Homo sapiens: one gene and its partner. The protein of the gene in region 1 purifies or fractionates together with the protein of each later gene. This does not show direct contact. Each region holds a gene or a part of one and is shown on either strand. Other genes may lie near its edges.

Evidence for each region. The genes of interacting proteins can lie anywhere in the genome.
Region 2: the proteins of RTN4 (region 1) and TMT1B purify together in Homo sapiens (affinity purification with mass spectrometry; 3 studies listed by BioGRID and IntAct, with this or other methods). This does not show direct contact.

What each region holds. Positions count from the first base shown.
Region 1 is NC_000002.12:55,043,952-55,047,451, reverse strand, and holds part of RTN4 (reticulon-4), read left to right. Parts: intron 1-125; exon of another isoform or gene 126-636; intron 637-3,500. UniProt on the Homo sapiens protein: Required to induce the formation and stabilization of endoplasmic reticulum (ER) tubules. They regulate membrane morphogenesis in the ER by promoting tubular ER production.
Region 2 is NC_000012.12:55,680,474-55,684,535, forward strand, and holds the start of TMT1B (thiol S-methyltransferase TMT1B precursor), read left to right. Parts: upstream 1-1,262; 5' UTR 1,263-1,281; coding exon 1,282-1,779; intron 1,780-3,339; coding exon 3,340-3,576; 3' UTR 3,577-4,062. UniProt on the Homo sapiens protein: Thiol S-methyltransferase that catalyzes the transfer of a methyl group from S-adenosyl-L-methionine to alkyl and phenolic thiol-containing acceptor substrates.

The DNA of each region.
Region 1 (3,500 bases):
TAGAAGATGAGGAGTAACTCAATCTTTTCCTTTTTCTTTATGAAAAAGACATACTTGAGGGAAACTGAGGTAAGAGAAAAATATGAAATATATTTTTAAACAGGAATTTTTTTTTTTTTTTTTTGAGATAGTCTCCCCCTTGTCACCAGGCTGGAGTGCAATGACGCAATCTTGGCTCACTGCAACCTCCGCCTCCCAGGTTCAAGTGATTCTCCTGCCTCAGCCTCCCGAGTAGCTGGGATTACAGGCGCCTGCCACCACGCCTGGCTAATTTTTGTATTTTTAGTAGAGACGGGATTTTACCATGTTGGCCAGGCTGGTGGTCTTGAACTCCTGACCTCCAGTGATCCACCCACCTTGGCCTCCCAAAGTGTTGGGATTACAGGCATGAGCCACTGCGCCTGGCCACAGGAAGTTTAATGATTGACAAAAGCATACTAATCTTGTATTGGTATGGGAACAAAGAAAATAGTTCTGTCTTTGAACATTAGGGATTCAGGGGGTGACAGCACTCTCTTGGAATCTTGTGTGTTGGAATGCTGAGGTTGGAAGGCAATGGGGAAAGAATATTGCCTGTTCTACAGAGTTCCCTAATTCCATATTGATGATACCTATTGGGAAACTTTAGTTTTTTTAGTAAGTGTAAGAACATTGTGATTATGGTTGTGGATAGTTAACCATTTTCAATGTGTCTGGATTTCTTAATGCATTCAAGAGTTTGTTCATTAATTCAACCCATTATTGATTACCTACCAAGAGACAGGATCTATTCTAAGCTTTGAGGGTATAGCAATAAGCAAGACACATGCTCCCCCTTGGGAGAGTACAGATAATAAGCACATAAATAAAGAACCCAGAATAGTGGTGTTATGAGGAAAATAAACAGGATAATGGCATAGAGAATGATGGGGATTTATGGGGGCTTTTTTAGGTTAGGTGACACTAAGACAGGCTTAGAAGGTGAGATTTGAGCTGCAGAGAGAAAACATTTCCAAGCAACTTCAGGGCAAAACCCTGAGGCAGGAATGAGCTCTTTGTGTCTGAGAATCTAGTGTAAGACTAGTGAGAAAAACTAGTGGGAGAGTGAAGAGGTGGCCTTACCCACCCAGATCATTGGGGGTCTCTAACAGGCAATGGTAAAAATGTTTAGCTTTTTAAAAAAATAAAAATATGCTTATTAAATAATTATATTGTGATTTTGGAACTAAAATAAGTTTGGAAGATTCAGGGCTACTGAGAGGACTGATGTGAGACAAAGGTGAGAAATGTGCAGAGCAGGGTTAGAAGCATAGACTAGCCTGCCTGGAAGAGAGGGTTTCTAGATCACTGACACTTGTCTGTTTAACATTGCTGTTTACGTTATTTATGAGTAAGCCCTGATTTTCATCTGTTAATAAGTTGTAATTTTACTGTTTGCTGTTGTGCCCAGAGCATCTCCATCGCAATGCAGTAACTGAAGTGAGACTAAAACCTCTCACTTGAGGGCCATTTTTCATGGGAAAATACTTGGCTTAGTGGTTGGTTAAGTTAGGCTTTGAGGATATGCGCAGAAAACTCTGGCTAGAAATCGATTTGAGAGCAGTGCAAACATAATTAAGGGTGACTTCGAACTGGTCTCTGGACATGTTCTAAACCAAGGTTAATTAAGACCGAAAATATGTAGATCTGGATTCTGAAAGATACTGAATGCCAAATTAAGGAATTTGGATTTTATCATTCCACTTTAATCCATGCTCTGCTATCCAGTTGCCCTTGCTTTTGGTAATTTATATTATGAAACCAAAATTGTTTTTTTTAATTGTTGTTTCTAAAGTTATTGTTTTTCACCCCTTCTCGAATTAGAGCTTTTGGCTTTGGGAAGACAGCCATTGAAGGTTATTTGAACTGAGGCAAGGCACCGTGAAAGCAGTATTAGAAAATTGGTGACAATATTCAAGATAGGTGGGAAGGAAAAGCAGATGAATTATTTAGAAAGCTATTACAGTAGTTCTGAGAAAGATGAGTAGGGCCTGAACTATTTCATTATTTGTTCATTCAGTGAAAATGGAATAGAAGGGAGGAATATAAGAGTATAAGAAGCACGCTTTCTTTAATTGGCTGTGAATCTGTTTTTATAGTTAGTTTACGAAGAGGCTGTATGAAAGACGAATTGATAGGACTTGGAAACCATGAATGTAAAGACAAAGAAAAGAATATTAGTGCTTATTAAATCAGTTTCAGAGACTGCCAAAATTTAATTGCCATGAAAATTTGTATAAAATTGAATATTGCTCATAAATACAGATTATGGGTTGGGGCTTAAAAATTACTAGTTTTTACTATCATGAAGCCATTTATTATATGATCATTTTTATTGGCGTAGTAGCATGTATTAGAAATTTTAAGATTTTGAGTGACATATGGTTTAAATATTAGGTATCAGTTCTTAATATAAAGTCCAAGTTCCCAGGAAGTGGATGCTTCTAAACACAAGAAAGTCATGCCCTGTCCATTCCCCACTTTCATTTTTGTGATTCTGAATAATTTCTGGTTAAGCCATTTCTTATTTTTAAAAGTTGGGAATAAGTAGTATACTCCTCATGGATATGGTGAATTATGTTTCAGATTGGTTCCTGGGCAACTGAGTGTCAAATTTGTGGTCTTTTTTTTTTTTTTTTTTTTTTTTTAGTGATTTGCAAACTCTCTCAAATCCTTTTTAAAATGAAGTGATGGGTATATGTGGAACCACTGATAAATAACTGCATGGAATAGTGTTTAGAAAACATGCTATTTTAGTGCTATATTATTGTAAACTTAAAGGATTTGCCATGTTATAAAAACATTTCTGAAAAGGAGCATGTTACCTATTGTCCATTAATTGGCTTTGTTTTATGTGTAGTTATTTTCTTTTTAAAAATCTAAAAACCAAAAAACAATGGTCTCACTTTTGTCCAGGCTGGTCTCAAACTTGGGGCCTGAAGCAATCCTCCTGCCTGGACCTCCCAAAGTGCTGGGATTACAGGCATGAGCCACCATGCCTGGCAAGTTTTTTTGTTTGTTTGTTTGTTTGTTTGTTTCTTTTGAGACAGAGTCTTACTCTGTCGCTCAGGCTGGAGTGCAGTGGCATGATTATGGCTCACTATACCCTTGACCTCCTGGGCTTAAGCAGTCCTCCCACTTCAGCCCCCCAGGTAGCTGAGACTACAGGTGCACACCACCATGCTGGCTATTTTTAAAATTTTTTAAAAAAACTTTTATATTTATGTATTTATATTTTGGAGACAGGGTCTTGCTCTTTCACCCAGGCTAAAGTATAGTGGTGCAGTCTTGGCTCACTGCAGCCTCATCTTCTGGGCTCAAGTGATCCTGCCACCTCAGCCTCCCAACTAGCTGGGACCACAGGCACGTACCACCACGCCCGGCTAATTTTTGTGTTTTTCGTGCAGATAGGGTTTCGCCATGTTGCCCAGGCTGGGCTCAAATTCCTGAGGTCAAGCAGTCTTCTCGAAGTGCTGGGTTTA
Region 2 (4,062 bases), on another chromosome or scaffold:
GTGTACAATATACTACTATTTGTAAAAGAAAAGGGAATATGTATATGTATATATGTACATGGATCTAAACACGTGGTGTGTGTGTTCCCTGCTCGTTCACAGGTCATCTCTGGAAGGATTCACAAGAAATTGGCAATATGGCATTTAGTGCCTCCAGAGAGGAGATCTGAGTGGTTGGGTCACAGGAGTAGAAGAGAGAATTTTCCCTGTAATCTCTTTAGTATCTTTTTAATTTTGTACTAAGTGAATGTACTGCCTCTTCCAAAAAAAGTTGTTTAATAATGTTTTGTAAAAAGAATTCTTCTCAGCCAGGCGCAGTGGCTCCCAACTGTAATCCCAGCACTTTGGGAAGTCGAGGTGGGTGGATCACCTGAGCCCAGGAGTTCAAGACCAACCTGGGCAACAGGGTGAAACCCTGTCTCTACAAATTACAGAAAAAAAAAAATTGCTGGGCATGGTGGTATGCACTTGTAGTCCCAGAAAATCAGGAGGCTGGTGTAAGAGGATCACTTGAGCCTAGGGACATTGAGGTTGCAGTGAGCCCAGACTGCTGCCACTGCACCCCAGCCTGGGCAGCAGAGACCCTGTCTCAAAAAAAGGAAAGAAGGAAAGAAGGGAGGAAGGGAGGGAGGGAGGGAAGGATCTCTAAAAAGTGGCTATTCTCTGACCTCACTTCCCCCTATTTGTCCAACTTACCCCATTCCCCACAGAACTAAACTTCTCACCCTTTCCAGGAGAGGGCATGCTGTCTCTGTCCTGTACACCTACTTTTTCCTCTGCCAAGAGCACCCTTCCCTTCCTATGGCCCCTCTGAAGTGCCTGACCTGAGGACGAAATGAGGCCAGGATATGTCCCATGAGTCAACTCTGTCCCCAGCATTCACCACTACCAACCCACCCCCAACGCCCTGCCAGCCCCCGACACTCCCCCGCCATGAGTCTGTCATCTGAAACATATCCCCTTACCCCTTCCCACTCCCTCTGAGATGACTCAGCAGCCCCTGCCCCCCTTCAGCTGGGCACAGTGCCCCAGAACTCAGGAACATGGGTACCACCTGTCCCTCCGCCCACATAAAAGTCATTGAAGAGCTTGTGGGGCTGTGGGACCTGCGCCCTCTGGAGGAATTCCATACACCCACTCAACTCTGGCAAATAGGAAATTGTCAAGTAGGAGACAAGGAGCAAAGTCCTATCACAGCGGGAGGGGACGCCAGCGCCTGCAGAGGCTGAGCAGGGAAAAAGCCAGTGCCCCAGCGGAAGCACAGCTCAGAGCTGGTCTGCCATGGACATCCTGGTCCCACTCCTGCAGCTGCTGGTGCTGCTTCTTACCCTGCCCCTGCACCTCATGGCTCTGCTGGGCTGCTGGCAGCCCCTGTGCAAAAGCTACTTCCCCTACCTGATGGCCGTGCTGACTCCCAAGAGCAACCGCAAGATGGAGAGCAAGAAACGGGAGCTCTTCAGCCAGATAAAGGGGCTTACAGGAGCCTCCGGGAAAGTGGCCCTACTGGAGCTGGGCTGCGGAACCGGAGCCAACTTTCAGTTCTACCCACCGGGCTGCAGGGTCACCTGCCTAGACCCAAATCCCCACTTTGAGAAGTTCCTGACAAAGAGCATGGCTGAGAACAGGCACCTCCAATATGAGCGGTTTGTGGTGGCTCCTGGAGAGGACATGAGACAGCTGGCTGATGGCTCCATGGATGTGGTGGTCTGCACTCTGGTGCTGTGCTCTGTGCAGAGCCCAAGGAAGGTCCTGCAGGAGGTCCGGAGAGTACTGAGACCGGTAAGCAGGGTGGGAAGGGGATGGGTGTGGGGCAGGCAAACGCAGCATCAGCCGCCCCAGGGTTCGGCCCCCAGAATGGGGCGTCTGAGGTAGTAAGTAGCACATTAGACACCCCATCCACCTCTACCTGCTGGTGAATAGGAGACATGACCAGTGCCATGACGGGGCACAATTGGGTGCTGTGGAAGCAACAGGAGGATCACCTACCACCATGGGACAGGGAGGGGAGTGGGGAGGACACCTAAGGAACTGAGGTTTAAATCGAGATCTGTGCTTGGGAGGCTGAAGCAGAAGGATGACTTGAGCCCAGGAGTTCAAGACCAGCCAAGGCAACATAGTGAGATGCCGTCTCTACAAAAAAAAAAAAAAAAAAAAATACAAAAGCTAGCCAGGCGTGGTGGCACATGCCTATAGTCCTAGCTACTCAGGAAGCTGAGGTGGGAGGATCACTTGAGCCCGAGTTCAAAGTTACAGTGAACTATGATCGCACCACTGCACTCCAGCCTGGGCCACAGAGTGAGACCCTGTATCAAAAAAAATAAATAAATAAATAAAAAGAGAGAGAGAGAGAGAGATCTGAGGGATTAAGCAGAGTGTGGACGGGGTGGGGAAAATAAAAGAGTGTTCTAGGTAAAGATAGTAGGGGAAGTAGAGTAGAATCCATCAGACTGTGGAGAGAACGTTCAGAATAGTTTCCAGGTTTCTAGCATGAGCAACTGAGGGGAGAGCTGATGAAAAGTGCCATTTGCTGAGATGGAAGAAAGCTGTTTTGGACTTACTAGGTTTGAGATCACCTAGGGAGAGTATAGTGAGGCGAGGAGCTTGAGGAACCCCAGCTTCAGTCAAGAGTTGGGCCTGAGGTTTCCCTGGGATGTTCACAGCGATGTCCAGGAAGCAGCTTGTGCATGCATCTGGGTTTTGTGAGAGAGGTTGTGCGTGTATCTCAGAATACAATAAGCCCAGCTGGGCGAGGTGGCTCACGCCTGTAATCCAGCACTTTGGGAGGCAAGGCAGGTGGATCTCTTGAGGCCAGGAGTTTGAAACCAGACTGGCCAACATGGTGAAACCCTGTCTCTACTGAAAAATACAAAAAGTAGCCGGGCGTGGTGGCTCATGCCTGTAATCCCAGCTACTTGGGAGGCTGAGGCAGGAGAATCGCTTGAACCTGAGAGGTGGAGGTTGCAGTGCGCCGAGATCACGCCATTGCACTCCAGCCTGAGCAACAGACTGAGACTCTGTCTCAAAAAATAATAATAATAATAATAATACAATGAGCCCTCCACTCCTGTTTCTCAGTTTCCCCTTCTGCATGCCCTCGGTTATTCTGGTCAGGCTTTAAAGATCTCCCACCAGCCACTCCTTTCAGTTATGAGGTTCTTCACATGCACTTTGAAGGCGGTAGCAGGGGATGCAGAAAAGGTCAGGGGCACGACAGTTTGCTCCATGAACTCTCAGACCAGCAGCTCCCATTTCACCAAGAAGTTTGACTGTCTTGATCAGCGCGATAGGGAGCAGGGTCAGAATGGAGCCAAGTGACACTAACTCTCTCATCCCTCCCAGGGAGGTGTGCTCTTTTTCTGGGAGCATGTGGCAGAACCATATGGAAGCTGGGCCTTCATGTGGCAGCAAGTTTTCGAGCCCACCTGGAAACACATTGGGGATGGCTGCTGCCTCACCAGAGAGACCTGGAAGGATCTTGAGAACGCCCAGTTCTCCGAAATCCAAATGGAACGACAGCCCCCTCCCTTGAAGTGGCTACCTGTTGGGCCCCACATCATGGGAAAGGCTGTCAAATAATCTTTCCCAAGCTCCAAGGCACTCATTTGCTCCTTCCCCAGCCTCCAATTAGAACAAGCCACCCACCAGCCTATCTATCTTCCACTGAGAGGGACCTAGCAGAATGAGAGAAGACATTCATGTACCACCTACTAGTCCCTCTCTCCCCAACCTCTGCCAGGGCAATCTCTAACTTCAATCCCGCCTTCGACAGTGAAAAAGCTCTACTTCTACGCTGACCCAGGGAGGAAACACTAGGACCCTGTTGTATCCTCAACTGCAAGTTTCTGGACTAGTCTCCCAACGTTTGCCTCCCAATGTTGTCCCTTTCCTTCGTTCCCATGGTAAAGCTCCTCTCGCTTTCCTCCTGAGGCTACACCCATGCGTCTCTAGGAACTGGTCACAAAAGTCATGGTGCCTGCATCCCTGCCAAGCCCCCCTGACCCTCTCTCCCCACTACCACCTTCTTCCTGAGCTGGGGGCACCAGGGAGAATCAGAGATGCTGG